7 linked regions of the Homo sapiens genome follow. The protein of the gene in region 1 purifies or fractionates together with the protein of each later gene. This does not show direct contact. Each region holds a gene or a part of one and is shown in the gene's direction. Other genes may lie near its edges.

Region 1 (3,839 bases):
TGTGGAGACCGACATGTCCAAGATTAAGGCACTGGCAGATTTGATGTCTGATGAGGGCCTGTTGCCTGGCGCACAGATTGTCATCTTTCACTTTAACCTCACCATGATGGAATGGGCAAGGGAGCTCTTTGGGGCCTCTTGTATAAGGATACTAATTCTATTCATGAAGGCTGCACCTTCATTAACTAATCACCTCCCAAAGGCTCACCTCCAGATACCATCACATTGGGTGTTAAGATTTAACATATAAATTTTGGGGGGACATAAGCATTCAGTCTCTAGCAGGTAATTTTTTAATAATGTGATTTTTCTAGGTATTGTAACTATTAATACTTGGTGGGTTTTTTTTGTGGTCACTGCTTTTTTTTGAGACAGAGTCTTGCTCTGTTGCCCAGGATGGAGTACGGTGGTGTGATCTTGGCTCACTGCAACCTCCGCCTCCCAGGTTCAAGCAATTCTCCTGCCTCAGCTTCCTGAGTAGCTGGGATTACAGATGTCCACCACCCTGCCCAGCTAATTTTTGTATTTTTTTAATAGAGACAGGGTTTCACCATGTTGGCTAGTCTGGTCTCAAACTTGTGAGCTCAAGGGATCTTCCCACCTCGGCCTCTCAAAGTTTTGGGATTATAGGTGTGAGCCGCCGTGCCTGGCCGGTTACTGCTTTTTATAATGAGTTTTTTCGTTGTTATATTTGTAATAGTTCATCATGTGCAAAATCTGATCTGCAATGCACTCCCCTGCTAAGAAATCTTTGTCCTTTGTTCACTTTCTGCCTTGTTATATATCGTCATTGCTTGCGAGTTTATCATCTCCTTACTTTCTTTTAAATGTAAAGTTTTGTTTTCTTCATTGTATTTGGGTTTTTGAATATCATGATTTGTGTTTTTTACTAATGTTTTACGTTGTTTGATTATGGAGGGTCTTTGCCTCTAAGAATCATTTTGACTCTCTTTCTCCTTTACCAGCCTCTAAGGAAATGGCTTCTGGTGTTTGGCAACTTAATCACAGCCGGGTGCTACATGCTCTTAGGGCCTGTCCCAATCTTGCATATTAAAAGGTAATTTTTTTCTTCTTCTGTATGTTTGGCCAAATAACATTAGGAATTATTTCGAAAAATTTTGTTTTAACATTGGTATAGTTTAGTATTTTGAACATTAATATTTAAATAATTAACTTTAGGACTCTATTGAATTGTTAGGCTGACAATATTTTACCCTACTAGAAGCTAGCAGTGGGACAACAGAAAAAAATGCATAAAATCTGTCTCAAATGACAAAAATGCATATTCTCCTTCTGTATTTCAATTGTACATACTTGTTTATACTTTTGTTATATTTTTAAAATAGAATTTGTTGCTACTTACCTTTAGTTGATAGTTCTTAGAATATATTTTTGTTTTTTTTTTCTTTTCTTTTTCCTTGAGGCAGGGACCAAATCTATTTTTCTTTCTGTATCATCCTTAGCATGTAGTAGCTGCTTATTAGACCTTGCTTAATGTAATTTAGTTGCTAAAATAAACTGAACTTCTTAGACCTTTTCAGGTACTTCTGGGATAAAACATAGTAACCTGGAAAGGAAGGGGTTTCAGAGTCCTTCAGACCTGAGTTTACATTTTGGCTTTGCCATGTACTAATAAGCAAACCACTTAACTTCCAAGAGCCTCGGTTTTCTCATCTACAAAAAGGAGCTGATAATAGTACTTACATTACAAGGATTAAATCTGGTAACATATATTAAGTAACTGGCATAGTCTCCTCACATGGAACAAATGTGTTTCCTGACTCTTCTTTTACCTCTTTCCTTCTATGCCATCTTTAAATTAATTGAAGTTCAAAGCCGAGTGATTGAAAGAACAGTTTTAGTACTGACGTTTTCACCAATTTTGAAGGGATTTTGTCTGGTGAGAAGAAGCCAGGTTGGCTCCAGATATGTGATATGTGTAACCAAAGGACCAAAGAGATGGAGATATCAGGATGAATTCCCCCCCACCCCCCCGCCCCCAAAACTGTAAGGAGCTAAAGGACACTCTAACTGAATGAAATGGGTTAGATGGGAAAGGGAATGAGACTAGGCACATAATCGGTGAAATAACTTATCAGGGATCCTCACTTCCTTAGCATTAAGCTTTGTGTTTGTTAAAACGCTAATGTTTTTCTTTTTGTATTTGTTTTCTCCAAAACCCTTTTGCAGTCAGCTCTGGCTGCTGGTGCTGATATTAGTTGTAAGTGGCCTCTCTGCTGGAATGAGTATAATTCCAACTTTCCCGGAAATTCTCAGTTGTGCACAGTAAGTTACTTCCATTGCTTGAAGAGCTGTATTGTGAATAAGTAGTAAGTATCACAGGCTTTCTTGAATTTCTCAATTTTGCAGCATGTTGGATATTTTTGCCCCAATGTTAAATCTTCATGATTTTGTAGCATATGATATTATGATATAAATAGTAATAATACACTAATAGAAATGATAATAGTACATTAATAGCTAAAATGGGTTGTGGACAGATGTCTGGCTTGGTTTATGCCTCAGTATGTAAGTAATTTTGAAAAGCTAAAGCAAAATAGATAGGTCTCAGCATTGTTCCTCTTTCATGGAGGAGGTCCATGAGAGAGCCTAGAGTGACCAGCATCTGTCACCTGGTCATCATTCTTTTGTTTAATAGGCATGATGATGAAGAACACTAAGTACTATGGCTGTGCTGGGTCAGTTCAATAGTTCTCATGGGAATAAGGAACTATCTCTGTTTTTTAAAAGTTGCCTTTGTTCTCTTTCCATCTTCATCTCATTTTAAGAATTTCTTAATTATATATTTTTATAAGTATTTAATGCAAATGAGCCATGCTTCTTAATATCATATATATATGCAGAAAAATTATTTCTAGAAAACCATGGAGTAAATGTAACTATGAAAATTCTTTTAAATAAGATTTGCTTTTTATCTTAGAAGCAGAGTATTCTTGCTGTTGGTTTTTTTCCAGATTATCCTTGGTTTATCTTAATTGATCTATCATACAATTTTTTCTTTCACACAGGTTTTCCTTTTAATAATGGATACACTCATGTCTCTTTTTGCAGTGAAAATGGGTTTGAAGAGGGATTAAGTACATTGGGACTTGTATCAGGTCTTTTTAGTGCAATGTGGTCAATTGGGTGAGTAGTCATTTAATTTCTTTCTTTTTTTTTTTTTTTGAGATGGAGTTTCACTCTCATCACCCAGGCTGGAGTGCAATGGTGCGATCTTGGCTCACTGCAACCTCCGCCTCCCAGGTCCAAGAGATTCTTCTATCTCAGCCTCCTGAGTAGCTGAGATTACAGGTGCCCACCACCACATCTGGCTAATTTTTGTATTTTTAGTAGAGACAGGGTTTCACCGTGTTGGCCAGGCTGGTCTTGAACTCCTGACCTCAGGTGATCTGCCCGCCTTGGCCTCCCAAAGTGCTGGGATTACAGGCATGAGCCACTGTGCCCAGCCTCATTTAATTTCATTCATACTTGCAAGATGGAAAATATTAATACTATCCCTGCTTGATGTTGATGAAGAAATTGAAACACTGAGGGATCAGATGAGTTTCTCAAAGACAAACAGTTCATCTAGGGGAAAGCCAGAGTTCTAATCCATACCCTTTCACTCAACAATCAATGCCTATACCAACAGTTTAATACTTAGTCAAAATGGTTTCATATACTTTATCTTATTTGAGTGGTATTTATAAGTTCCTTTAATAGAAACATGTCTCTGATTTTTACAATTTATTCATTTATTCATTCATTTGTTTATTTTTTACCTTCTACCAGAAGGGTAACTATGCTAACAATGTAATATATTGTTTTGAATTGAGTTA
Region 2 (4,455 bases), on another chromosome or scaffold:
AGGGAGTCAGTGTGGAGATGCCCGTGTGCCTGGGGCGTGGCCTCCTGGAGGGAACCAGTGTGGAGATGCCCGTGTGCCTGGGGCGTGGCCTCCTAGAGGGAGTCAGTGTGGAGATGCCCGTGTGCCTGGGGCGTGGCCTCCTGGAGGGAACCAGTGTGGAGATGCCCGTGTGCCTGGGGCGTGGCCTCCCGGAGGGAGTCAGTGTGGAGATGCCCGTGTGCCTGGGGCGTGGCCTACTAGAGGGAGTCAGTGTGGAGATGCCCGTGTGCCTGGGGCGTGGCCTCCTGGAGGGAACCAGTGCGGAGATGTCGGTGTGCCTGGGGCGTGGCCTCCCGGAGGGAGTCAGTGTGGAGATGTCGGTGTGCCTGGGGCGTGGCCTCCTGGAGGGAGCCAGTGCGGAGATGCCCGTGTGCCTGGGGCGGGGCCTCCTGGAGGGAACCAGCGTGGAGATGCCCATGTGCCTGGGGCGTGGCCTCCTAGAGGGAGTCAGTGTGGAGATGCCCGTGTGCCTGGGGCGTGGCCTCCTGGAGGGAACCAGTGTGGAGATGCCAGTGTGCCTGGGGCGTGGCCTCCTAGAGGGAGTCAGTGTGGAGATGCCCGTGTGCCTGGGGCGTGGCCTCCTGGAGGGAACCAGTGTGGAGATGTCGGTGTGCCTGGGGCGTGGCCTCCTAGAGGGAGTCAGTGTGGAGATGCCCGTGTGCCTGGGGCGTGGCCTCCTGGAGGGAACCAGTGTGGAGATGTCGGTGTGCCTGGGGCGTGGCCTCCTAGAGGGAGTCAGTGTGGAGATGCCCGTGTGCCTGGGGCGTGGCCTCCTGGAGGGAACCAGTGTGGAGATGTCGGTGTGCCTGGGGCGTGGCCTCCTAGAGGGAGTCAGTGTGGAGATGCCCATGTGCCTGGGGCGTGGCCTCCTGGAGGCAGCCAGTGTGGAGATGCCAGTGTGCCTGGGGCGTGGCCTCCTAGAGGGAGTCAGTGTGGAGATGCCCGTGTGCCTGGGGCATGGCCTCCTGGAGGGAACCAGTGTGGAGATGCCAGTGTGCCTGGGGCGTGGCCTCCTGAGGGAGTCAGTGTGGAGATGCCCGTGTGCCTGGGGCGTGGCCTCCTGGAGGGAACCAGTGTGGAGATGTCGGTGTGTCTGGGGTGTGGCCTCCTAGAGGGAACCAGTGTGGAGATGTCGGTGTGCCTGGGGCGTGGCCTCCTGGAGGGAGTCAGTGCGGAGATGCCCGTGTGCCTGGGGCGTGGCCTCCCGGAGGGAGTCAGTGTGGAGATGCCCGTGTGCCTGGGGCGTGGCCTCCTGGAGGGAGCCAGTGCGGAGATGCCAGTGTGCCTGGGGCGGGGCCTCCTGGAGGGAACCAGCGTGGAGATGCCGGTGTGCCTGGGGCGCGGCGTCCTGGAGGCTGGGCTTCCTGCCTGGGTGGCGCTTCACCAGAAAGCCTCATGTATCTTGTCTTTTTTTTTTTTTTTTTTTTTTTTTGAGAGGGAGTCTTGCTCTGTTGCCCAGGCTGGAGTGCGGTGGTGCCATCTCGGCTCACTGCAACCTCTGCCTCCCGGGTTCAAGCGATTCTCCTCCCTCAGCCTCCTGAGTAGCTGGGATTACAGGTGCACATCACCACGTCTGGTTAATTTTTATATTTTTAGTAGAGGGGGGCGTTGCACCATGTTGGCCAGGCTGGTCTTGAGCTCCTGACCTCCCAAAGTGCTGGGATTATAGGTGTGAGCCACCGTGCCCGGCCCATCTTGCCTTTCAATACATCATCTTATCTAAAAAAGCTCGGGGACCTCATAGATTTTATTTTAAAAGGAAATGAAGCACAAGCCACCTTTGAATGGACTTTCCTGTTGGTTTTGTACCTTCCTTCCTGAGTATCTTCAAAGTAGGGCACATGTGGCTGGGCACGGTGGCTCAGTCCTGTAATCCCAGCACTTTGGGAACTCGAGGTGGGTGGATCACCTCAGGTCAGGAATTCGAGACCAGCCTGGCCAACATGGCGAAAACCCGTCTCTACTAAAAATATAAAAATTAGTCGGGCGTGGTGGCAGGTGCCTGTAGTCCCCCCTACTCAGGAGGCTGAGGCAGGAGAATTGCTTGAACCCGAGAGGTGGAGGTTGCAGTGAGCTGAGATCATGCTACTGCACTCCAGCCCAGCTGACAGAGTGAGATTCCATCTCAAAAACAAAAAAACAAAGTAGGGCAGATGACTGTCACTCCAGAGGGTCTGAGTGCAGCTCTGCCTGAGGCTGGAGTCAGCCAGATATCCATCCAAACCGGATTTCCAGCCCAGGCCCATATGGGGTTAGCAGATCTACAGTGAGGCTCAGCCAGGCTTTTGGGTTTATGAGTTCACCGGGAGGAGTGGGGTGTCTTCGTCTTTTATCCTCAGGGTCTGATAGGTGCACGCTTGTTGAATGAATCAGAGGACTGCCTGACTCCTGTTAGGAGTTGAAAATGAAGGTCACCGTGTCTCATCTCCCACCCAATTTGGCATGATTTTTTTTTTTTTTTTTTGAGGCAGAGTCCCGCTCTGTCACCCCAGGCTGGAGTGCAGTGGCGTGATCTCTGCTCACTGCAAGCTCCGCCTCCTGGGTTCACGCCATTCTTCTGCCTCAGCCTCCCAAGTAGGTGGGACTGTAGGCGCCCGCCACCACGCCTGGCTAATTTTTGTATTTTTAGTAGAGACGGGGTTTCACCGTGTTAACCAGGATGGTCTTGATCTCCTGACCTCGTGATCCGCCCGCCTCGGCCTCCCAAAGTGCTGGGATTACAGGCGTGAGCCACCGTGCCCAGCTGCAGCATTTTTTTTTCATTCCTAGGAACAGAGTCTGACTCCTAGCTTAAATGGAAGGAATCGATGGTAAAACATTGGAGGTGGAGGTTGCAGTGAGCTGAGATGGCGCCGCTGCACTCTAGCCTGGGTGGCAGAGCAACTGAGACTCTGTCTCAAAAAAAAAAAAAAAGAACTACCATCAGAAAGGCGGAGAGGATGAGAGTCCCTCAGGACAGGTGAAAGGGGCAGGAGAAGGTCAGAGGCCTGACACACCCAACATTGTCACAAAAAACTGTAAGAGAGGCTGTGGGAGCTATGAGTCGGGAACCTGGGTGCAAACCAATCTCATCCTCACAGACACCCTTGAGGGTCTGAATTGCAGCTTGCAGGTTGATGTGAGTATCTGCTGTTGCCGGGAGAGGAGGAGGGGCCTTCAGAGCACATGAGCTTTGGAAAGGCCCGGCTGTGTGCTGCTCTCCGGAGGGTGCTGGAGGAGGTGTGACAGTGGACCCTCAGGTCTCCCCAGAGGCTCCTGTGCCACCATCTCCCCCCGGGCAGCGCAGGGCACTCTCCAGTGCGTTCCGTGATGAGCTCTCCGTCACTGTCCTCCGCCCTCAGCAGGAAAGACTTTGGTATTTAGTACGCATTCAGGGAAGGAGAGTGTGGGTTTGCGTTTGTAATTCAGGTAGAAGGACGAGGGCATTTTATCCACACTTATTTCTCAAGTTCCAGTTTTTTAAACTGGTGGTTAGACCTGATGATGTTTTATTTGTGTTTCCAGCTTCTTGTGACCACTCTACAGAAACAGGGTGGGAAATGAATGTGCCACATGGATCACAGGTGAAAAACAATTGTCAAAGCAGCGTAGGTTACACTTTTTCTGTGCGTCGTGTGGCCATCTAGACTAGAATTTGGACAAGACTGGCCGGTTTTGCACATTTAACTTTTGCCTGTTTAACCCTGGTCTGTAACATTTTATAAAGGAACCGTGAAGCTGCTTTTTTTTTTTTTTTTTTGAGACAGGGTCTCCCAGGCTGGAGTGCAGTGGCACAATAACTGCTCACTGCAGCCTCAGCCTCCCAGGCTCCAGTGACCCTCCCTAGTCAGCCTTCTGAGTAGCTAGGACTAAGGCGCATGCCACCATGCCTGGCTCATTTTTTAAAAAAACTTTGTGGAGATGGGGGTCTCCCTATGTTGCCCAGGCTGGCCTTGAACTCCTGGGCTCAAGCAGTCCTCCTTCCTTGGCCTCTCAAAGCCCTGGAATTACAGGCATGAGCCACTGCGCCCAGCAAGTGAAGCTGTTTTGGAAAGGACTGGTCAACCTGCAGCTTCGCCAAGGGCAGTGAGCAAGGGTCCCTGAGCACATCCCAGGTTGGGACGGCTCCCAGTGGCCGTCAGTGCCTCTCACTTCAGAGTTTGGTGTGGTTACTGCAGCTCCTCTCTGCCATCTTGTGCTCTGTCCAGAAGGGGCTTTTACACCGGGGTGCGGGGGCACTCCTGTGTGTGTCTCAGAACCCGTTGGGGTGCAGTCATAGGCGACGTTGCCTGTCTCTTTCCTGCCCTGAGTAGATGGGATATGAAGGTGGGAATTGGCCACTGAATGTTGAGATGGAAGCGGAAGCAGCAGGTGACTGATGGAGTTATGAGTGGCAGATTCCCTGCAGGGTTGCCCACCCTGGATATGTGGGGCTCA
Region 3 (5,037 bases), on another chromosome or scaffold:
GGGCAACAGAGTGAGACTCAGTCTCAAAAAAAAATTAGCCAGGTGTGGTTGGTGGGCATCTGTAATTCCAGCTACTCAGGAGGCTGAGACAGGAAAATTGCTTGAACTCCAGAGGCAGAGGCTGCAGTTAGCCAAGATCAAACCACTGCACTCCAGCCTGGGTGATAGAGTGACACTCCGTCTCAGAATATACATTTTAAAAATATATATCTAAAATCCTTTTTTGAGGGGTAGGAGGATGGAGGTGGGATGTATGTTGCTATTGCACTGGCCAGCAGAACCTTGAGAAGTGGACTGATTAAAAAAATGTAGGCCTGGCATAGTGGCTAACACCTGTAATCACAGCACTTTGGGAGGCAAAGGTGGGAGGATGGCTTGAGCCCGAGAATTCGAGAACAACTTGGTCAACAAAGCGAAACCCCCGTTTCTACAAAAAAGTTAACGGGGCATGGTGCGTGCACATGTGGTCCCAGCTACATGGGAGGCTGAAGCAGGAAGATCGCTTGTGCCTCGGAGATGAAGGTTGCAGTGAGCTGTGTTTGCGCCACTGTGCTGCATGCAGCCTGGGTGACAGAATGAGACCCTGTCTCAAAAAATAAAATAAAATGGAATGCAGATCGAAATGTTCAATATAGGCTGTCCATAATCTCCTACCTCATACCCTGAACCAAAATATTGCTACTCTTGGTTAAGTTCAGAAAACTGAATGCTGAGTTAAACCATCCGTTCCTAGCCTTGAACATACAAAACCAACATTAACAGTATTTATGTATTTACTATTAATTATAAACAACTGTGAATTACCCAATGGTTGCTATTTGCCAATATATATCTAGATTAATTATTATTATTTTTTGAGATGGAGTCTTGCTCTGTCACCAGGCTGGAGTGCAGTGGCAGAATCTCGGCTCACTGCAACCTCCCACTCCCTGGTTCAAGCGATTCTCCTGCCTCAGCCTCCCGGGTAGCTGGGATTACAGGCGCGCGCCACCACGCCCGGCTAATTTTTGTACTTTTGGTAGAGGCGGGGTTTCACCATATTGGCCAGGATGGTCTTGATCTCCTGACCTCGTGATCCGCCTGCCTCGGCCTCCCAAAGTGCTGAGATTGCAGGCGTGAGCCACCGCGCCCGGCCTAGATTATTCTCACTTAATTATTACTAAGGTCTGTATATAATTTCTATTTTATAAATTAGAACACTAAGGCTCAGAAAAGTGGAGTGAGTTGCCCAAACTCACACAGTGAAGCCGGGATCAAAGCTAATTACAGTACTGTCTAATTTTAAAATCTATACTTCTAAGCATCTGGCTACACTATATCTCTAAAAGTTTTACGTAGTTCAAATGTGAGCAGCGTTCGTCTACGCAGAAAAACTGAATAAGCAGCATTAACCGCGGGCAGAAACAGAACAGAAACCACTACCTTGGCGGCCGCCCGCCCCCGGGCGTCGCCTACGTCATAACACTGCGCGGCCGCCCCTCGCGCACCACGTGCTAGGGGAGCGGGCGGGCAGATGGCTGTGTCTGTAAGCGGGAGGCGTGCCCGGTTCATCCAAGGCGCAAGATGGCGCTGCTTTTTGCACGTTCTTTGCGCTTGTGCCGCTGGGGAGCCAAACGATTGGGAGTTGCCTCCACAGAGGCCCAGAGAGGTAGGATTATCTCTTTTTACTCTTTTACCTCCAGAATGGCTGCCGTCTATTATTCCCAGACCCCACTCCGAGAAGCAACTCCAACCCTCTCGGGTCTTTTCCTTCCCCACCTGCCTTGGTCTTAAGATTCCAAACCTGTGATACCATTTGGTTTCTTTAAATTCCGGGACTTACTCAATCCGAGTTTTTCAGCTCCGTGAGCTATCCGTAGTAAAGCGACCTCGCGACTCTCTTGCCCGCTTGGCATTCTGACTCTTCCCTAGTTGCTCGTGTATCATGGCTGCCTGCCTCATATCTGAATATATCACCAGCCCTAGGGTTCTAGCCCCTGTTATTATCCCGTCTTTTTGCTCTGCCCGCAGGCGTCAGTTTCAAACTGGAAGAAAAAACCGCCCACAGCAGCCTGGCACTCTTCAGAGATGATACGGGTGTCAAATATGGCTTGGTGGGATTGGAGCCCACCAAGGTGGCCTTGAATGTGGAGCGCTTCCGGGAGTGGGCAGTGGTGCTGGCAGACACAGCGGTCACCAGTGGCAGACACTACTGGGAAGTGACAGTGAAGCGCTCCCAGCAGTTCCGGATAGGAGTGGCAGATGTGGACATGTCCCGGGATAGCTGCATTGGTGTTGATGATCGTTCCTGGGTGTTCACCTATGCCCAGCGCAAGTGGTACACCATGTTGGCCAACGAGAAAGCCCCAGTTGAGGGTATTGGGCAGCCAGAGAAGGTGGGGCTGTTGCTGGAGTATGAGGCCCAGAAGCTGAGCCTGGTGGATGTGAGCCAGGTCTCTGTGGTTCACACGCTACAGACAGATTTCCGGGGTCCAGTGGTGCCTGCCTTTGCTCTCTGGGATGGGGAGCTGCTGACCCATTCAGGGCTTGAGGTGCCCGAGGGCCTCTAGTATGTCCATTACTGGAGTCCCTAATCACGCCTTTGGCCAGCCTCCTTTTGAAAGTGTCCGAAGCCTTTTTACTTTGCCTCAAGCAACCTCTAGCTCCCACAATTCAGTGTTGGGTCCTCTGTGCAATATCATGATCATCTTCCTCATCCCCTACCTTGTGAAAGCTAGGCATACAGCCAAACCCTCCTTTTCCCCACCCACCAACTACTGCCAATTTCCTAGGCTACCATGGGTGTATCTTCCTTGACCTGCTTCCTTCAGTCCCTCTGCCTCCCTTTGCCCAGGCCTTTCTCAGACTGTATTCCATCCTGGGGTCTTATCATTCAGCTTTGTTTGAATTTATTAATCACCATGATACCTCTCCCTCCCTTTGTCCACATGTAACTTGTTCTTGGGGCTCTACCAGATGGCTGAAGAGTAAATCCTTTCTACCTCTGGCTGAAGGAGTGGTGCAGTCAATGACTTGGCCCTTTTTCTACAGCACATTTAGAGTTTGGGCTCTGGCTCCCTCAGTAAGTGCTTTATTAACTCAGTGTGTCAAAATGAAAACAGAGCCCTCCTTCCCCAGTAGCTCAGTGCCACAGACCTTCAGCCCCACACAGCTGTAGCTATCCTTACCCTGAGTCCATCTACCTTAAATCTGTACCTCTGACACCCAGCCAGTCTGTCATAATCATTATCCCAGTTATAACCTTGACCAAAGGGGAAGAGAGACACTTGGGGGATATCTAGGGGATGAGTGCTAGAAACTATTTATTTATTTTTGAGACAGAGTCTCACTCTGTCACCCAGGCTGGAGTGCAGTGGCATGATCTTGGCTCACTGCAAACTCTGCCTTTTGGGTTCAAGCGACTCTCGTGCCTCAGCCTCCTGAGTAGCTAGGATTACAGGTGTGTGCCACCATGCCCGTCTCATTTTTATATTTTTAGTAGAGATGGGGTTTTGCCATATTGGCCAGGCTGGTCTCGAACTCCTGGCCTCATGTGATCAGCCCACCTTGGCCTCCCAAAGTGCTGGGATTTCAGGCGTGAGCCACCACACCCGGCCAAAACTGTTTATTCTTGAGAAGTTCCATCTTCATTTCTGCCACAGTTGGAACTTCCCGAGGAAGGAAGGAGGCCTGAGGTTTTGCACAATCTGTTTCAGAGCCTGTTTAGACTCAAACCTATGCTTCCCTTGGCAGCAGAATACACTTAACCTAAAGCAGTATTTGGAGTTGAGAAAAACCTGGTGGGGTAAGTGAATATGTACTGTTTGGTAGGGTAGGTAGAGAAGCTGTGCTTTGACCCTGTGATTCCATCTTTTTCTACCTTCTATGATGGTGATGAAGCTAGATACCCCTAGGGAAGAAAGAAGGACTGGGTTTAGCAAAAATGATTTGGTAATTAAAGTTTATTTGAACACAAAATACTTTCTCTGTCTATAAAATTGGCTGTTAGCAGTAGCAGCAGCATGTCCTGGCCAAGGGGAGTAGATTTCTCCAGACTACTAAAGCCATGTATATAGCCATTCCCACTTCCCATATTCTGTGGATATGTACATGTGCATGGTAGCTAGAGTCCCTCCACCAGAGTATCTCTCTCATGATGGTTTCTTCAGGGAGAGGAAGAGGAGACCTGGGTGAAGAGCTGGGATGGTTTTGAGTGGGGCAAGCCATTAGGCTGTACCTTGAAGCCCAGTCTCTCTGGATAGCTGTACTGCAGGTGTCCTCTGAGGCCCTTCTCTGTACTCTGTCTGCTGAGGGAATGGGGTATTTTGACTCCCATAGAAAGCACTAGCCTAAGTCACCAAATGACTGCTTGGTCCCCACTGAAGCAGTGTAGCTCTCCATAGTATTTTTGGTGGTTATGGATTACATGTGTGGCCAGCTCATGCTTTTTCTTGAGCAGGGGCTGTCCATGACCTGTGCTCATACCATGCTTTCTAAGTTCTCTTTGGACAGGGCCTCAGCTGCTGCCTCAGCCTGAGTTTCAGAGAGTGTGTAGGAGTCCTGGTAATCTTGAAGCAGTTTGACCACCTCCAGATGGTTGAACTGCACAGCATCATCCAGGGGAATGTTGCCCCACCTGAGAGGAATAATGATATGATCAGGCAAAGGAGACGTGGAGAGTGGTGGTTGTATATATTTGCATGGTGGCTGGAGGGTAGGTGGAGAAGCTGTGCCCACCCTCCTCCACTTTTAGCCTATTCCTCACCTGTCCTTGGCAAAAGGATTCACTTTGCAAGCCTCGATCAGGAATTTAACAACTTCGATGTGTCCTAGGAATATGGGCAGAAGGAAAATGAGAAGGCGCAGGTCTTGAACCCTTTGGTGCAGACACTTAGCCACTGAAGTCTTTACCAAGAGGGGAGGGGAAAAGGCCTCTTCCCATTTTGTACCCTGCAGCACTCAGTCATAGTCTAGCTGCAAACCGAAGGGTGTCTAGATAAAACTAGTTGCTGCCCCTATAACCTTGAGGGCACATATAATGAAGGTACTTTTGGTGAA
Region 4 (4,455 bases), on another chromosome or scaffold:
TCTGTGTGTGTGTGTGTGTGTGTGTGTGTGTGTATACAAGTTTCTGGGGTACTTGAGAAAATTTGTTACACATATATAATGCATAGTAATCGAGTCAGGGTATTTAGGGTGTCTGTCACCCGAATACAATACATTTTTGTTAAGTGTCATCCTCCTACTCTGCCATCAAACACTGAGTGTATTCCTTTTCTCTTACTGTATGTTTGTGGACTTTAAGCCACTCCTCTTCATCCTCCCCCTACCCCCTGCTTTCCAGGGTAGGAAACCCCCTTTCCAGGCTCTGTTATCCATTTTTCCACTCTCTACCTCCATGTGTTCAAATTCTTTAGCTCTCACATATAAATGAGAACATAGTGCCGCGTTGCTTAACAAGTGGTCTGTCTTAGACCCAAATATAGCTACTGGAATGTAGCTTTTTTGAATTGAACTTTGTTATTAGATATTTTTACTAGTGAAGCAGATCCCACAGAGTGGACCCCAGCCCTGTGGCTTCAAACATAGTAGAGTATGAATGTTTTTTCCTTTGTCAGCACCTGCAAAACTCATGTCACTACCCACATGCACTGCCATTGTAATCATGGTCTCACCCTCAGTTTTTCCAATGCTAAAGTCATCAGAAGGGCCAGCACATTCCAATAAAGTCCCCTGAAATGCTGGTATTTTTGAAAACTTCCTGTAGGCGGGATTTTACTAAAGCCCTTGTTGGGAAAGAGACTACATTAGCCATTTGTGTAGACTGCACAAGGGAACCACATGATACTCTGTGAGCAGTTGTATGTATTCCCAGAGTATTCTAAGCCAACCCTAATTCTCAGGTACAGAGCCAGGCAGGGCTTGGTACATAGACAGACCCTAGAGATGAGCTGCCAGATGTTTAGGAAAATAAATCTGTGGGCTTCTCAAACAGATGGTGCAATATACTCTCTGCATTTGGCCATTTGACAAAATGAGCATCATTCATTATTTTAACTAATGTTATAAATCCCTTTCCATGGATCCATTTCCACGTTTAACTTTTTAGAGTATTGCAGAAATGTAAGCCTTCATTAGCTTTGTTCACCTAAGAGAAGAGAAATAAAACATCGAAGGCTTCTCTTTGGTGACTCTAAATTAAAATTCCCTCCCGCATGTTTTTTCTTGGGCAACGGTAATGTGCTAGCACTCTGCTAGACCAACGAATAAATTTACAGGATGGCTGAGCAATAACTGAAAGTCAAGTATCAATAGAAGGGAGGTTTTGTGCAGGTCATTCTCTGTCTACTCTCCAGATCCACTCTCCGCGGGCTCCCCTGCTCTGAGCTCTAGGAAGAGTGAGCAGCTCCCTTTCCCCCAGCTATTGATTCAGTTTAGCCAGTGGGAGACAACAGTGAGATCAAAAGGTGGGATGGAGAAATCGCTAGAGCCCAGCGTTCTCTCTGTGGGGCTGCAGGATGGCAGTGGCTGTGTTCCTGTACTGCAGGTGGCCCCTCTTGTAGGCAGCCCTCCCCTGCAGGTGCAGCCTCACCAGGTTCTGGCCACTCCCTCTTCCTTTGTCCCACAGGCCTAGTGGAGGCCATGGCTTCTCAGAGTCATTAGCCCAGGGATGCGTTGCCCTCACTTGTGGATTTCCATTGGCCCCGTCTGCACCTTTGTAAACAGTCCTGTGTGAGGTTATCTGCAGTCATCCCTCTTGAGTGTGTCATCTGTTTCCAGCAGGTGCGTTGTATTGACAAGATGGAATGGTGAACTGCCATTGGTCCAGCAGACCTTGCAATCCCAGGGGAATCTTGAACATCATTCTCTCTCTGACCCTGGCCCCTCCCTGTGCAGCCAGGCATTTCAATTCTCTCTTCTAAGTATTCTTGAATCTCTTCTCTTTCTTTTATTTCCACTGCTCTGCCTGAGCAGGAGCACACTCCAGGCCTGCATGTGTGATGGAGGTCGGATTGCCCTCTGCCTCTGGTGGCATCTTGCCCCATTCCAGCTCATTCTTTACCTGAATGTCAAGCGATCTTTCTAAAAACCAACTCCAATCAGGCGTACACCCAGTTCACAAGTTTCCAGTAGCTTCAAATTTCCAGTAGGACACAGTTTAAGCTGTTTGTCGTGATCTAACCAACCCCATCTGGCCTGGTCTCACCTGCCTTCCGGCATCATCTCTCTCCATCCTCCTCTTTGCCCTCTTCTTTCATGTGGGCCTTGACCAAGGTATTCTGCCTGCCAGAAATACTCTTCCATTTCCTCATTCAATTAACTCTTACTCTTCAAAAGTCAGCTTAGTGTTGGCATTTTTCTATAATAAACAACCATCAGTTGTGCAATTTAGAATAATAATAAAAGGTTAAGAAATAAAAAGACTTCCTCCCATCTCAGATAATATCTGATACAGTCAGCCTTTGTGGAAACTCCCCCCTTCGTAGTGAAGGGTACAGCGCTACCCGAACTCCATGCCATCTCTATCATAGCTGTCACCACATGGTATAAATTGTCAGCTCACGTGTGTCTTCCTCCCACTTAGGGAGCAAATTCTTTGAGTGCAGAAACTGTTTTGCTGCCCACCTCTGCAACACTAGCACCCAGCTCAGCCTGGGTTTATATTAGATTATCATGTCAATACTAGAAATGAGATAGAAGCTGAGTTTAACCCTAAATAAGTTACAGGACTTGTATAAAATTGGAGAGGGAGGGAAACATCAGGAAGCTAGGCAAGGAGAGAGTGGGTAGATGTCATTTCAGAAACTATGTTGGCTGAGTATTCCTTTTCATTGATTTTTTTTTTTTTTTTCTTGAGATGGGGTTTTGCTCTTGTTGCCCAGGCTAGAGTGCAATGGTGCAATCTTGACCCACTGCAACCTCTACCTCCTGGGTTCAAGCGATTCTGCCTCAGCCTCCCGAGTAGCTGGGATTACAGGTGCCTGCCACTACACCCGGCTAATATTTTGATTTTTAGTAGAGATGGGGTTTCACCATGTTGGCCAGGCTGGTCTTGAATTCCTGACCTCAGGTGATCCACCCGCCTTGGCCTCCCAAAGTGCTGGGATTACAGGCATGAGCCACCGCACCTGGCCTTCACTGATGTTTTAATTTTTATTTTGCTTACTGTGATAGCAGTTATCTATCACTTCCTCTGTCCAGCTGCCCCCCTGCAATAATGAAATTATGTTTTGAGTCTTTCCAGGCTGTCTGGATCCTATGAAAAGGCTTTTCTAGATCAGCCTTAGGACTGGCAGTCCTGTTTTGCATGCATTCATCTTCAGCCCAGGTGGGAAGGATGGGAAACTTCCTCTTTTTTTTTTTTTTTTTTGAGATGGAGTCTGGCTCTGTCGCCCAGGCTGGAGTGCAGTGGCACAATCTCGGCTCACTGCAACCTCTGCCTCCCAGGTTCAAGCAATTCTTCTGCCTCAGCCTCCTGAATAGCTGGGATTACAGGCGTGCTCCACCATGCCTGGCATTTTTTTGCATTTTTAGTAGAGATGGGGTTTCATCATGTTGGCCAGGCTGGTCTTGAACTCCTGACTTCAGGTAATCCACCTGTCTCGGCCCCCCAAAGTGCTGGGATTACAGGCATGAGCCACCACACCTGGCCAACTTCCTCTTCTTCACAGCTGCTAACTAGTGCCAGTGTTGGAAGCAGGCATTTGAGGGGACCGGCCATAAAGGACCAGCTCACTACTGTTTGGATTTCTGCAGCTAAGTTTAGGGTTTTAAAGAAGGAAAACATCCAAGTGTACCCAGATGGTAGGCTCAGTAGGTTAATTTGAAATTGTCTTTTATACAGCTCACTGCAAATGTGCTGTTAATACTACCACAGGGAATTTGGATGTTTAAACTGTGAATTTTTTGAGTTGGGAAGCCTGGAGGGATCTGAAGATTTCCTGAGTCAGCTTTGTCACTTGGTGAGCTGTTCTGTGCTCTGGCTTTCCTCTGGCCCATAGGAGGGGACAGTGCCTGCCGCCAGGCCCTGTGATAGCGGATCTTCATGGTCAGCTTGTGCAAGGGTTGTTTTTTATTTAATTTTCTTTGACAGGGGAGATGACAAAAGAAATTGGGCAAAAATGGTCTTTAAAAAAAAGTCATCAGCCGGGTGCAGTGGCTCATGCCTGTAGTCCCAGCATTTTGAGAGGCCAAGACATGCAGATCACTTGAGGTCAGGAGTTCGAGACCAGCCTGGCTAACACGGTGAAACCCCGTAAAAGTACAAAAATTAGCCAGGCGTGGTGGCGTGCACCTGTAGTCCCAGCTATTCGGGAGGCTGAGACAGGAGAATCACTTGAACCTGGGAGGCAGAGGTTGCAGTGAGCTGAGATCGTGTCATTGCACTCCAGCCTGGGTGACAGTGAGACTTCATCTCAAAAAAAAAAAAAAAATCAAGTTTGAGAAATAACATTTTAAAAAATATTGACTTGGCTAATTCATTGACTTGTCTCCTTGTTCTCCTCTCAGAATACCTCTGAAAACTTGCAAACCCTGTAACCC
Region 5 (4,455 bases), on another chromosome or scaffold:
ACTTTTTAATTTTTTTTTTTGAAGATTGTGAATTGGAAATCCCCCAGCTTGCTGGCTCCCTCAGTGGGACATTCCAGCACATTATTACTTAGTGATGTTCCATTCACCTTGAAAACCACTACTTGCCAGGACCTGGCCCATAAGGGTTAGGTAAGTCCCACCTTGATATTATTTTGAATAACTATATTTTGCAGGCTTGCAAAGTTGTAATATTACTATGTCTAAATATTGGTGATAGGAAACAACTTTGCAAAGCTGTATAATGTTTTTTTTTTTTTTTAATAATAAAAGGGACTTCACTCACCATTGAAGACTGGCCTAACTCTGCTGGATGGGAAATCTGGGAATTGATATAAGAGGATAGTAACAGAAAAGTTACTTGCTCAAATATCACTAAAAAGGCAAACTATGGAATGGATCCCTCATCCTCAATTTTAAGTTTTAGATTTATAGGCTGCATTAGCTATGTGTAGGTAGATGTCCAATCTATTTTCTTTGCAGGCTGTCCTTGTTTTATCATTTGATTTTTTCATCTCTGTTGAATAAAGCATCCTACGTTACAGATTTCTGAAGTTAATATTTTTAGGCTGTAGGTATTAATAGTTGAAAACCTTAAAAAGATTATTCTAGCTTGACTATAAATTATGTTGACATATTAAAGCAGATATTAAAAAATTTAGTATAAGCATCTTGTTTCAGTATACTGATAAATTTGTTTTAATTTCTATAGCCTAACTTACGTGGTGGCAATGCCTTTTTATTCAGCAAGTCTGATTGAAACAGTGCAGGTGAGCTTTTTTTTACTGTCATTTTTTTTTTATTTAAGAATAGTTTTTTGACTATTCAGTATATTGTAGATATCTAACATTTCAGCAGAAAATTTTAAGACTATGTCTTAAAATATTTATTTTATAAATATCACAGTTATATCGCACGTTGCTTGTCTGTATATTTCCATTGGTATCTTAAGTCACACTTCTAGTTTTAATTATTTTTGTCCTTTCCATAGGCAACTATACTCTTCATTTAGACATCTCAGAACACAGCCTATAACTTGCTCTGAAAACAAAGAATCTATAAACTTTTTAAGGCCCTTACATACAACTCAGATGGTTATGGCTTATCATTGGACAGTAAATTAATAATTACCTGAGAATAAACATGATGGATAATCATCCGAACAGGAAGCAGGTTGTCCCCACAGGTAGTTTACTGACAGGATTCTTTTAAAACATGCCTTTAAGTGACATTTGATACTATTGGGTGTGGTAAATACTACAAAGCTGAAGCAATTTTCTGCTAGCACTTGAAATTCTGTTTGCTTGTGTTACTATTCCTAACCACATGGTGGCGCTTCAAGTACATTTAATTAAATGTCTTACCCTCCTTCCTACACTTAAAACTGTAAGATGAAGGTAGTTTTTACTTCACCTGTATACAAAATCCAACTATTTGTACACCTGTCTTCTATTTCCACATCAGATCCTCTAGCATATTCTTTTCTCTAGTATATGTGAGTGCCCTCTCTGTAAAAACTCGCACTGGATCAGCCTTTGCTCTTCTAATTACTCTTTTCTACCTTGTTTCTTTTCTGGCTGTATCATTCATCTTTGATTTATGATTATTATTATTATTATTTCTGTTAGAACTAACTTCAGTTAACTGAAGTTAGTGTCTTGCGACCCAAATCATACTTTCCCTTCCCCTTGCATTTGGCATTGTGTTAAATAAATGATGAATTTTTGTATGGTGCTATAGAATTTACAGAGTTGTCACTTGTATGAGATAGCCTCATTTTAAAGGTAAGGGAAAAATGTCAGGAAGGTAATTATTTAAGGAAAAACAACTAAGCAGAATGATTTATTGGGGAAAACAATTTTTAGCTTGAGACAGACCCATTATCACATTTCTCTGCTTAAATTAGACCTGGGACTTTAGACAGATTTCTTAACCTTTATAATTTTCTTATCCATAAATTGTGAATAGTATTTTAATAACTGACGTGTAACATTGAATGAGTTATTTATATAAGTGCCCGGCTCACTATGTGATAGGGTTTTTTCTGTGTATGTGTTTTTTTTAACCCAGTATTTACTCCTTGTTTCCTGCTTCAAGTTCCACTTGCTAACTCCTTTTGATCTCTTTTGTCTGCTTTTCTAGAACTCTTTTTTCTTTAGATTTCTCTCTCTTGAACATCTTTTTTCAATAATGCCTTTGCCATCTCTTGTCTTATACCTTAAGGCCCAATCCTTGACCCTCTGTTTTTTATCCTATACTCATTATTCTGAAAGAGCTAATTTATTCACAGGAATCATTAGCTCTAATCTCATGTGAGTTAAATCTTCAGACTCAACTTTTAAAAACAATCTCATCTGTCCCTCTAAAAATTAGCTTCCTTTAGAACCTCTTCTCCTTGGCAATATATTAGTGATACTATTGTTATCTTCACACTAAAGATTCAAAACTTTAGTTTTTGTTTTAGGAAAGTTTTTTATTTTTACATTTCTTTCATCCTTCATAATTACCCAGTCATCATGAACTTTGTAGTTATCTATTTCTTCATTAAGAATCCTTGAGGCCTAGGTGGGCGGATCATGAGGTCAGGAGTTCGAGACCAGCCTGGCCAACAGTGAAATCCCATCTCTACTAAAAATACAAAAATTAGCCGGGTGTGGTAGTGGGCGCCTGTTGTCCCAGCTATTCAGGAGGCTGAGATGGAAGAATCGCTTGAACCCGGGAGGCAGAGGTTGCAGTGAGCTGAGATCACGCCACTGTACTCCAGCCTCGGTGACAGAGTAAGACTCTGTCTTAAAAAAAATAAAAAAGAAAGAAAGAAAGAAATCCTTGTACTAGTCTCCACATTTTAAAAGTCAATACTCATACAAGATTGTTTTCAAGTTGCAATACTTATATATATCCTTTTACTGATTAAGGATTCATATTGACTCATATTCCCTAAAATCAACTTCAGACTTCTTATTATAGTTTTAAACCAAGGTTTTAATTACATCACTTTACCTTTCAGATTTGCAGATTATCTTAACTGCTAAACTTTTAAAAAAAATGTATCAATTGTTTATTGAGTACTTGCCTATATCAGGTACTGTTATAGACCCTGGGGATACAACAGCAAACAAAACCAAAATGCTCTGTTCTCATAGCACTTATATTCTTATGGGGAAAGTAGACATAAACAACTAAATAAAAGGTATATTTCATGGCGATTAACTGCTAAAGAAAGCAAAAATAAAGCAAGGAAGGCAAATAGGATGTGTAATGGGTAGGGAGGGGCGGTTAATATTTTTTTAAGAAGATAAGTAAAGGTCTCACTGAGAAGGTGACATTTGTGTAAAGATCAACATGCATATTTGGGAGAATATTCTAAGTAGAGGGAAGGCAAGTGCAAATGCCCTTACATGGGACTGTGTCATGTGTGTTGTATCATACATGCTTGAGAAGTAGGAAGGATGCCGATGTGGCTGGTGCTAACTAAGCACAAAATAAGCAAATGTTGAATTGTATTTAGAGGGAAAGCAGGTGCAAAAACTCTCAAGTGGGACTGTGTCATGTGTGTTGTATCACACATGCTTAAGAAGTAGAAAGGAAGCTGTTATGGTTGGTGCTAAGTAAGCAAGGGGGGAATACAGGAGATGAGGCCTGAGTGGTAAGAGGGGACCAGATTACATAGGACATTGTAAATCATTGTAATAATTGGGCTTTTGTTTGAGAAGGATGGAAAGTCTTTGATAGGTTTGAGCAGAGCGGTGGTGTGATCTGACTTACATCTTTATTAGGATCTCTTTGACTGTTGCATTAAAAATAAACTGGAGTGGGAAGGATGTCAGGGTCAGAAGTAGGAAGATGGATTAGAAGGCTAGGCAAGCTCACTGTCATCTCATAGTTTTAAATATCATCTATTTACTAAAGACTCCCACATTTATAATACAGTGCTCCTCCACTCACGATGGGATTACATCCCAATAAACCTGTCATAAATTCGAAAAATCTTAGGTTGAGACATCGTAAGTTGGAAACCATCTGTAGGTCCATTGTGTACCTTTTTCTGTAATTTCTATTGTGAACTCCATTTGGAGTTAATTTACTTAACATTTCTGAACTCTTGATCTTCACCAAATTGCTACTCTGGCAATTTTTCATCTCAATAAAAGGCAGTGCTATTCCCCCAGTTCCTCTGGACAGCAACCTTGGGGTTATCCTTGACCCTTCTCTTGCATACCCCAAATGCAATTCACCAGTAATTCCCATAGACTTTGATTTTAGGATAAAAGCACAATTGAACCACTTTACTTCTGTTGCCACCTTCTAGTCCAAGCCACCATCATCTCTTTGTTACTGGAATCATTCCAGTAACTTTTGAACTGGTTTCTCAACTGATCTTGTTCTCCTTTGCACAACAGCCAGTATTCTTTCAAAATACAAATTATGTCATGTCCG
Region 6 (4,455 bases), on another chromosome or scaffold:
AATAGCTAATAGTGAGTAACATTATTGAGTGCTTAACAAGTCCTCCAGCTGAATGCTTTGCATCTTATCTTGTCTCTCACAACAGTCCTTTGGTGTAGGTATTGCCATTATCCCGCAGTACCTACATCCCAGTAAGTAGTGAAGGCAGAATAGGAACCCACGCAATCTGGTGACAGCCCAAGCGTTCAACCACCTCACCTCCCATCTTACAATGTGATAGCGATACATAGATGTACATCTACAAAACTGTGAGGCTCAAAAATTGTAGAGCATTGTACAAGTGCGGAAATAAGCTGATGCCAGTTATTTTCTGTGTAAGAGGAGGCCTGATGGGTGATAGGGGAATCATTGCACATTTAGGCAGGAAGAGACCTCACTGCTGCCAGCCTGTGGTCTCTGAAGGTTAACGCCCTTGAAAAAACAGCTATATGCCCAAAGAAATATGCTTGTCCCAGAGACTGACTACAGATTTTGTCTCCAGAGCTGTCTTCCTTCCCTCCTAACCACTTCCTAACTTCTGCACACATTTGTTTTTAGCAGATAGTGACAAATGGTCTCAGTGGATATGTCTGTCTTATAAATCTACCACTATTTACTACATCCTAAGTTATTTGTCTTTTCAAAATCACCTCCTGCCCACAAGTGCCTCGTGACATAGTTTTAATAAAATAAATAGAAAACAATGTTGTTTTAAGAATTTCATATGACAAAAGAAGTCTTGAAAGTGAGGCTGGAAATATTTTTTCTCCAGTGCAATCTAGAAAGTAAAACTAATTTCATTTTGGAAGTAGATTTCAGTTTTCCTTAAAGGTCAAACTTAATGTAATCGGATCACTTAAAGTCCATAGACTTTGTCAGGTAGACTAGAAGAGGCAACAGCTTGCCATCATGCTTACTTTCCTTTAAAAAGTACAGAAGCTGTGTCTAACGTGAAAAATTCTAAAGCTATTCAGATTTTGTTCAAGGCTGTAGAATCTTCCATCTCTGAGGACAGTGATCCAGACTCTATCTGTGGAATAAAAAGGGGCAAGATGAACTGCCTTTGAGAAAACATTGAAAGTGGGGTAATACTTTTAGACAGGTGTAGACAAAGCTTAAGAAGTAACTATGCTTAACTATGGCGGTATAGGAAATTAGCCCATACTTTAAATGATATTATTTAACTTTGAAGCAATTATAATGAATTATAATGACAATCAACTGAATATAAACATAAATGTCTCTAAAAATAGCATAGCTTTACTATTCACCAAACATTTCATTTATTAACAAAGTAGATTTCGTACTCTTTTTTTACACTTATGATGACTTGACTGCCAAAGAAATATTTAAATGGCAATAATTAGAAGTTTTAAAGCATAAATTAAAACTGTATGTAGCTAAAATTAACATATATTTTTTAAACTGTGCTGGTTGATAAAATAGTCTTTCAAGTTATTTTCATTCTGTTGATTCATGAGTGAATAGTGTTAATTAAGAAATGTTGATACCATTGTAATGCAATCCCAATAGAAATAGTATTTTTTTACTGAACTTGGAGTATTTGCAAATTAAAATTAGAATTCTGTAATATAATCATCCTGGAATTTCTAATGGAAATATATCTCCTGGAATTTCTAAATTCTAGTTTGCACTGAAACTTAAAGTATATTTATATAGAAACACTGATAACTAAAATATACCTACATGTAGTAGCAGGAATATTAACTTGTGGGTGACATTTTTTCTGCCTTTGTGGTATTATGTTCCCACATACCATAGACTTCAAAAGTATGGCATTTTGAAACATTTTCCAGTCTTGTCATTGACAGCACAGTATTCACAAAAACCATATTTATCTCCTGTAATTTTAGCAGCTAATAGAATTGTTCTTGAGGAAGCTGATTATCTTTTCTGTGACATTTTGATTGGTGTTTCCCCATTTTAATTTCAGCTTATATGTGGCATAAAATTGATTTATATGAAAAGGAGTGGCTTGCCATTTTATAACAAAATTTTGATTGTATATGTATGCACATAAAAATAAAGATGAAAATTCTCCATTAACTGATTCGCAGAATGATACAGTTATGATCAAATAGTGGCATATCGTGATCTTTTAAGATCAAGCCACTGACCCAAATCAGTGTTCACTTACAGAATCATAAATGTAGCAATTCAGAAATGTTGCTTTTTATTAGCTATTGGACAATATTTGTGAAGTCCCTAGCACAGTCCTTGGCTCAGAGTGACTTTTTTTCACTCTTCTTTCTTGTTCATAACACAAGTTCTAACTTATTTTATCGAAATGGGAAATTAAAGAGGATTTTCTGGATGATAACTGCTCCCCTGTTCAGTGTCTCAGAGCCAGAAAATGCCTTTGGAAGGCACGCAATTTATTTCTTAGAGTCTTGGCTTGACCATAGCCATCACAGAAGGATGAGACTCCATTCCACTTTGGCCTATGAATATTTTATATTAGTTCTCAACATATTGTTTGTCCAAGCCAACTTAACATGACTCTGATGTTGTACCTTAAGGCTTACTTCGGTTTCATCCGGCTTCTAGTTTGTTTGCTTGTTGCATATTTACCTTGCCTTTCCAAATAAATCATTATCTCTTTGTGTTTAGAAATTATATTAAGTAAATGTTTTTGTCTTAGGGCATTTGATGTTTTTTCGATAGGAGTCAGCTATTTTGTAAATAAAGTCCAATTGGTACACAGCCATACCCATTGTTTACATGTTACCTGTGACTGCCTCTACATGAACACTGAAGAGTTGAGTAACTGGAACAGAGACCAGGTGGCCCATAAAGGTGACAATGCACTGGCTAGCCTGTTATTGACTGAATTTTTAATTTTGATTAATTCAAATTTTAATAGCCTCTGTGGCTACTGGACAGCAGTTTCAGATGGAACACAAAGGTGTTCTTTCCTCCAGGCCAGTTAACTAATGTGATCTGGCTTCTTGTGCTGCCCTAAGATGCAGCACCCTTCCACTGGGTTCTTCAGACAGACCATTGACCTTTGCCCATGGCTGGCCTGGGCAGACCCTGGACTGAAGAAGTTCTTAATGAGTTGCTACTTTAGACAGCACCACAAGCCCAGAAGAGATGGCAAGCGAGGCAGGGGGCAGAGGTTCTCAACCATGGCTGCACAAAAAATCATCTGACGAACTCTACAATTCCAGCGGCACCCCAAATCTATTAAATCAGAATCTCTGGGTGGGTCGGGGAGCTCAGACACCAAACTTTTTTTTAAAAGCTTCCCAGATGATTTCATTGTGCTCTACTGGCTAGGCAACATCACAGGTGAGCTAGGTAGCCTGTGTACTTCAGAATTCCACCAGGTCATCACAGGCAAGCTTATGGGCAGATGGGCAGGGAAATGGACACATGAAGGCCAGTGGACACCTAGCTTAGCTTAACAGGAAAGCTCTGGTGGGGACTGAGCTGTTTTCCCACCTGGTTTCTCTAGCACCAGGGCCCATTTGCTCAGTAGGGCCAAAGTGTAGATTTGTGTGTGACAGAGGTGAGCTTCAAAGAAGGAAAAATGCAGGATCTTCCAACTCACACATCCAGTGCTTTCTACTTATGTATTCAAAAACATTTATAGAGCACATTTTAATACATTTTTGTGTTGCTATAAAGGAATACCCGAGGGTAGTGGGTAATTTATAAAGAAAAGAGGTTTATTTGGCTCCTAGTTTTGCAGGCTGTACGAGAAGCATGGTGCCAACATCTGGTTCTGGTGCAGGCTTCAGGCTGTTTCCACTCATGGTGGAAGGTGTGGGGGAGCCAGTGTGTGCAGAAATCACATGCCGAGAGAGGAGGCAACCAGAGAGAAGGGAGGGAGGGGACAGCCTCTTTTTAACAACCAGCTTTCTTGGGAGCTCATAGAGTGAAAACTTGCTACTGTGAGGTTGCTACCAAGACATTTATGAAGGATCAGCCCCATTACCTAAACCCCTCCCATTAGTCCCCACCGCTAACATTGGGTATCAAATTTCAACATAAGGTTTGGAGGGATCAAATATCCAAACTATACCAGAGTGCCTACTGCATGTTTAAGATATGCCACACTTATTCAGTCTAGTGGGGTGACTGCCATGTAAACAGTTACCATACAGTGGGGTAAGCATGCTAATTGAGAGGCATCCTAGGGTACCATAAGAACATGAGGGGCAGCCGCCCTGGATAGATAAGGGGAGAGACATCAGGTGGTGCTTTCCAGAGATGGTGACACCCAAGCTGAGTCTTATAGGATCAAAAAGAGTAGTCACGTGAAAAGGGGAAAATGAAAAAAAGCAGATACACACTGGGATGAGGCCCTGGCTGACTTTTCTGTCCCTAAGTCTGAACACTATAAGATAGCTCCTTCCTGAGGAAGACTCTCCCTGCTATTTTAGCAAACCTCATGGAATGTCCTTATTTTAACTGACCTTTACCATTTACTCATTCACTCATTCATTCAAA
Region 7 (4,455 bases), on another chromosome or scaffold:
TTTGGTTTCATTTTTTTTTTCCATTTCTCTCCTTTTGTTCCTAGTGTGTTTTTAGCAGTTTCTTCTCCCTTTGCTTCTTCCAGTTTCACCTTCATTTCTGTAACAGTATTTTTCCTTTCACTTCTTTCCTCAGTTCTGCCAGTATGCAGCTTGTCTTCTCTTCTCGTCTCCCTACCTCTGCTAAAGTTCTTGTATTTCTGCTTTGAGCTCTCATTTCATAGAGACAACTATTTTATCAAGTTTTCTTTTTTTCTTTGTGTAAAATATTTTATTACCATTGTATCTAGTCCATGGAGGCCCTTTTCCAGTCTGTGGTCTTAGTCTGCCATTTGGTTTTCCTATTTCTTTCCTAATTTTTTCTCGTTGTATATTTATATAGATCCTGTTTAGATTTTTTGTATACTTATCTTTAAATAGGCAAGTTTTTCAGGGACCAGCTGTTTTGCAGGATGTTTGTTGGAGGAGCTACCAAAACTCTGTTCTGGGCTAGCTACAGTTGTTCCCTTGATTTAGGGTTCTGGGTGAGTCCGTTTACCCTTAGTCTCTAGCCAGCCAATCGAGATAGGCAAGGCGTCTCTTAGCATCTCCACAATGCAAAGGATGTCTTCTCTACTACCACAGACACCACCTCTGTGAGGCAAATGTAGCTTGCGTGATTTCTCATTTAGCCTCAACTTCAGGTCCAAGGAAGTTCCTGCCTTCCAAAAACAAGGAATTAATTTGGTGCTGGAGTGTGTCCTTTACCCACAGGAAGTACATATTTTTGCAGATCTTTCTGAGATCACCAGCTTCCCTGTCCTCTCCCTGTAGCATCCTTTCTTCTTTTTCTTCTGTGAAGCAAAGGAGTCCCTGCCTGAGCTCCCTGCTTTTGACAGCTTTTTCACCTGTTTGGGGGTTTGGAATTTTGGATATCCTGTAGTTATAACAAAAATGGAGTTTGCATTTTTATTTCTTCTTTTTGCATTTGGAACATATTTTGAACAGCATTTGAAAATGCTGACTTTATGATGCAGTGTTAAATAAGAAGTTTTAACTGACTTTTTCTGTTAACCAGCCACTAGTCTCCACGACATCATGTGTTAGGCCTTTTACTATACCTTCTCCAGAAAGCCCCCACCACCACACTGTTGTCTATCTTCGAAGTCCCTAAAGCCCAAGGAATATGCTACTTAGATATATGGAAAGCCTTTCATTCATTTAGCATGCCTACTCTGAGCGTTGTTCTAGGCCTTGGAGATAAAGCATGGAAGAATTAATACAAGATATTGACACACCAAAGACAAGTCTTAAATGATTTCATGTGGACTAGGGGTCAGGGATGAATAGAGTGGAAGACATAGTTTGGGATTCTGAGGAAGTATGATATAAAGGGTAGAACATGAGCTCCGGAATCAGCACCATTCTGCTGCTAATATACATGACATTGGGATCATTTTATTGCCTTTTCCTCATATATAAAATGTATCAATTTCTTCATATATAAAGTGAAGTCAGGCCAGGCGTGGTGGCTCACGCCTGTAATCTCAGCACTTTGGGAGGCCAAGGCAGGGGGATCATCTGAGGTCAGGAGTTCCAGACCAGCCTGGCCAACATGAGGAAACCCCGACTCTACTAAAAATATAAAAATTAGCTGGGCATGGTGGCGGGTGCCTGTAATCCCAGCTACTCAGGAGGCTGAGTTGGGAGAATCGCTTGAACCCAGGAGGCGGAGGTTGCAGTGAGCCAAGTTCACACCACTGTACTCCAGCCTGGGTGACAGAGTGAGACTCAGCCTCAAATAATAATAGTAATAATAATAATAAAGTGAAGATTATATTACCTACCTTAGATGAATGTTGTAAAATTAAGGTAAGTTACATAAAGTACTTGGTTCATAATAGATACTCAACAAGTACTACTTTCTACCCACACAGGGATTGGCTAAATAAAAGGAATAAATACTGAAAGTGCAGGTATAGAGGACTATTTCTCTCCTTTTTTGTTAAATTGTGGTAAAATATGTAACATATAGTTTCCTGTCTTCACCATTTTTAAGCTTACAGTTCTGTGGCATTAAGTATATCCACATTGTTGTGCAGTCGCCACCACCATCCGTCTCCAGAGCTCTTCATCTTGCAAAACAGCACCTCTGTACACATTAAACAATAGCCACCACTGTCCTCTTCCCCCTGCCTCATGGCAGCCCCCGTTCCAGTTTCTGTCTCTGAATTTGACTACTCTGGGTACCTCACAGGAGTGGAATCACACAGTCCTCATCCTTTTGTGTGTGGGTTGTTTCACTTATAGTATCTTCAAGGTTCATCCGTGTTACATTGTGTCTCAGAATTCCCTTCCCTTTTACAGCATCTCAATTCAGATGAAAAAAAAAAAAAGAATTCTTTTCCTTTTTAAGGCTGAATAATATTCTGTTGTATTTCTATGGCACATTTTGTTGATCCAGTCGTCTGTTCATGGACACTTGGGCTGCTTCCACCTTTTGGCTGTTGTGAATAATACTGCTATGAACATGGGTGTACACATTCTCTTCAAGTCTTTACTTTCAGTTCTTTTGAGTGTATATCCAAAAGTGGAATTGCTGGGCCATATGGTAATTCTGTTTTTAATCTTTTTGAGGAACCACCATACTGTTTTCAGAGGCCTATTTCTTGATGGGGAAGTATAAACAGTGGAATTCCCCCAGGGAATAATTTTAAAACCAGTCTTGTTTAACATTTTGTAAATTATCTAAATATGAGACTTTTACCATTAAATCTTCATTTGCATATAGCTAATGAATAATTCATATTGTATAAAATGTAAGAACACCTCGTGAGAGTGTGTGTGTGCGTGTGTGTAGACAGAACAGTGGTTAATAAAGCTCAATGTGGGCACACACGCAAGGGAATACATTTGATTTATTATACTCTGTCCTCAAGATCAGAAGTTCCCTGCACTTACTGAGGGCAAAATACAGGGAGCCAATGCCAGAGAACTTCAGATGTCAGAAGTGCACAGTGCCCAGATATGCAGACACATCTTTCTTCTTGACTCTGCATTGCTGACAGAGTAAACTGGTGGTTGACTCTAGACTCTGGACCAGTGGTTCTCAGCTGGGGTGAATTTGCCCCCTGGAACACATATGACAATTCTGGAGACATTTTTGATTGTCAAGCTGGAGGAGTAGAGACCAGGGATGCTAGAGAACAGGCCACAGTGACAGGACAGCCCCACAGCAGAGGATTATCTGGTCCCAGATGTCACTAGTACCTAGGCTGAGAAGCCCTGCTCCAGACCCAAATTACCTTCTCAGCCTTGTCTTAGCCTCTCTCCTGCATAAAGAAAGTTGCCATCCCAGCCAGACCCAGGAGCTCCCCATACCTGCCCATACACCAGCTGAATTGCTCCTTCCAACATCTTCTACCTGAAATTCTTTCCCCTACCTCTCTAATGTCAGAGCCCAGCTTCCATCCTCCCACTGTCTCTGTGAAGCTCTCTGATCTCTCTAGCCACTGTACCCTTTCTTCTCTGACTTCCCCAGGACTATCCCAGTCATTTGGCACTTAGTTAACAATAGAAGGTTGTACTTGCTGTCTTCCCAACTTGACCGAAAGCACCTTGAGGGCCATTTGATGTGATTTGGTTTGAAATATGGAGTACCATTCCTTATGAACCACAGTGGGCATCTCTGCTTTGACCCACCCAGGGCTTTCTGTGACAGCTTTCCTACCACAAAGGGGTACAGTAGTTGAGTCACCTCCGTCCCATCACAGCAGTTAGGTACACTGAGATTCAGCTTTGTTTAGATGACTGCTAGCTAGATGGAACCTAAGCCCAAATGTGACCCTTATGCTTAGAAAGGTGTTTATGCTGAATCTGCTTTCTAATCTAAGCAGTAAGAAATGAGGTGAGGAGAGGTGCAAAGGAATTGGGCTCTATCTTGCTCTGATCACGTCCCTTCAGTGGAGCACAGGCTGGAGGATCTGCCTTATAGAAGGTGGAAGACATTCATTTCAGTTGCTTGGACAGGGATTATTCTGTCATAGCTGGACCTACTTAATGACAGTCAGTGTTGATGATGGTAATATTAATAATGAAAGCCACCATTCCTTACTTAGAACCCAGTGTGTCCTGGGCACCAGGCTAGGTGCTTTACACACATTTATCTCATCCAGTCCTCACTGCAATCCTGGAAGGAGGCTGAAGCACTTTAAAGGTCATTTGCCCAGGGCCACCCAGCTAGCAAGTAGCAGAGCCAGAATTTAAACAAGAGCTGTCAGACTTTGAAGCCTGTGCTCATAGCTACCACCTCGCTGCTGAGGGGAGAGATTCGTGTTGCCATGTGCCAAGACCTGGGAGAGACCCCTCGTTGTGTCACTGGGCAGGGGGGTTTGAGTGTCTGAGTTGTGAGTCAGGACAGGTCATATCTGACCACTCTGCTGCTGCAGGAAAAGGAAACCTCGTGGGTTACACTCTGAC

What was found.
Region 2: the proteins of SLC18B1 (region 1) and LAMP1 purify together in Homo sapiens (affinity purification with mass spectrometry; one large-scale study listed by BioGRID and IntAct). This does not show direct contact.
Region 3: the proteins of SLC18B1 (region 1) and SPRYD4 purify together in Homo sapiens (affinity purification with mass spectrometry; one large-scale study listed by BioGRID and IntAct). This does not show direct contact.
Region 4: the proteins of SLC18B1 (region 1) and MSRB2 purify together in Homo sapiens (affinity purification with mass spectrometry; one large-scale study listed by BioGRID and IntAct). This does not show direct contact.
Region 5: the proteins of SLC18B1 (region 1) and SLC25A46 purify together in Homo sapiens (affinity purification with mass spectrometry; one large-scale study listed by BioGRID and IntAct). This does not show direct contact.
Region 6: the proteins of SLC18B1 (region 1) and TMEM150C fractionate together in Homo sapiens (co-fractionation; one large-scale study listed by BioGRID). This does not show direct contact.
Region 7: the proteins of SLC18B1 (region 1) and AP3S2 purify together in Homo sapiens (affinity purification with mass spectrometry; one large-scale study listed by BioGRID and IntAct). This does not show direct contact.

What each region holds. Positions count from the first base shown.
Region 1 is NC_000006.12:132,771,440-132,775,278, reverse strand, and holds part of SLC18B1 (MFS-type transporter SLC18B1), read left to right. Parts: intron 1-965; coding exon 966-1,057; intron 1,058-2,190; coding exon 2,191-2,286; intron 2,287-3,029; coding exon of another isoform or gene 3,030-3,042; exon of another isoform or gene 3,043-3,072; coding exon 3,073-3,147; intron 3,148-3,839. UniProt on the Homo sapiens protein: Proton-coupled polyamine antiporter involved in the translocation of polyamines from cytosol into secretory vesicles prior to their release via exocytosis.
Region 2 is NC_000013.11:113,313,937-113,318,391, forward strand, and holds part of LAMP1 (lysosome-associated membrane glycoprotein 1 precursor), read left to right. Parts: intron 1-4,455. UniProt on the Homo sapiens protein: Lysosomal membrane glycoprotein which plays an important role in lysosome biogenesis, lysosomal pH regulation, autophagy and cholesterol homeostasis.
Region 3 is NC_000012.12:56,467,029-56,472,065, forward strand, and holds the start of SPRYD4 (SPRY domain-containing protein 4), read left to right. Parts: upstream 1-1,549; 5' UTR 1,550-1,563; coding exon 1,564-1,648; intron 1,649-2,010; coding exon 2,011-2,549; 3' UTR 2,550-4,458; coding exon of another isoform or gene 4,459-4,615; 3' UTR 4,616-4,744; coding exon of another isoform or gene 4,745-4,808; 3' UTR 4,809-5,037. Other genes in the region: GLS2 (glutaminase liver isoform, mitochondrial isoform 1 precursor), read right to left, coding at 4,459-4,615, 4,745-4,808.
Region 4 is NC_000010.11:23,105,211-23,109,665, forward strand, and holds part of MSRB2 (methionine-R-sulfoxide reductase B2, mitochondrial precursor), read left to right. Parts: intron 1-4,455. UniProt on the Homo sapiens protein: Methionine-sulfoxide reductase that specifically reduces methionine (R)-sulfoxide back to methionine.
Region 5 is NC_000005.10:110,755,972-110,760,426, forward strand, and holds part of SLC25A46 (mitochondrial outer membrane protein SLC25A46), read left to right. Parts: intron 1-24; exon of another isoform or gene 25-150; intron 151-730; coding exon 731-788; intron 789-4,455. UniProt on the Homo sapiens protein: Transmembrane protein of the mitochondrial outer membrane that controls mitochondrial organization.
Region 6 is NC_000004.12:82,551,426-82,555,880, reverse strand, and holds part of TMEM150C (transmembrane protein 150C), read left to right. Parts: intron 1-4,455. UniProt on the Homo sapiens protein: Nonselective cationic channel with high permeability to Ca(2+). Component of a mechanosensitive cation channel, confers mechanically activated (MA) currents with slow inactivation kinetics. May contribute to proprioception.
Region 7 is NC_000015.10:89,837,766-89,842,220, reverse strand, and holds part of AP3S2 (AP-3 complex subunit sigma-2), read left to right. Parts: intron 1-2,876; exon of another isoform or gene 2,877-4,455. UniProt on the Homo sapiens protein: Part of the AP-3 complex, an adaptor-related complex which is not clathrin-associated. The complex is associated with the Golgi region as well as more peripheral structures.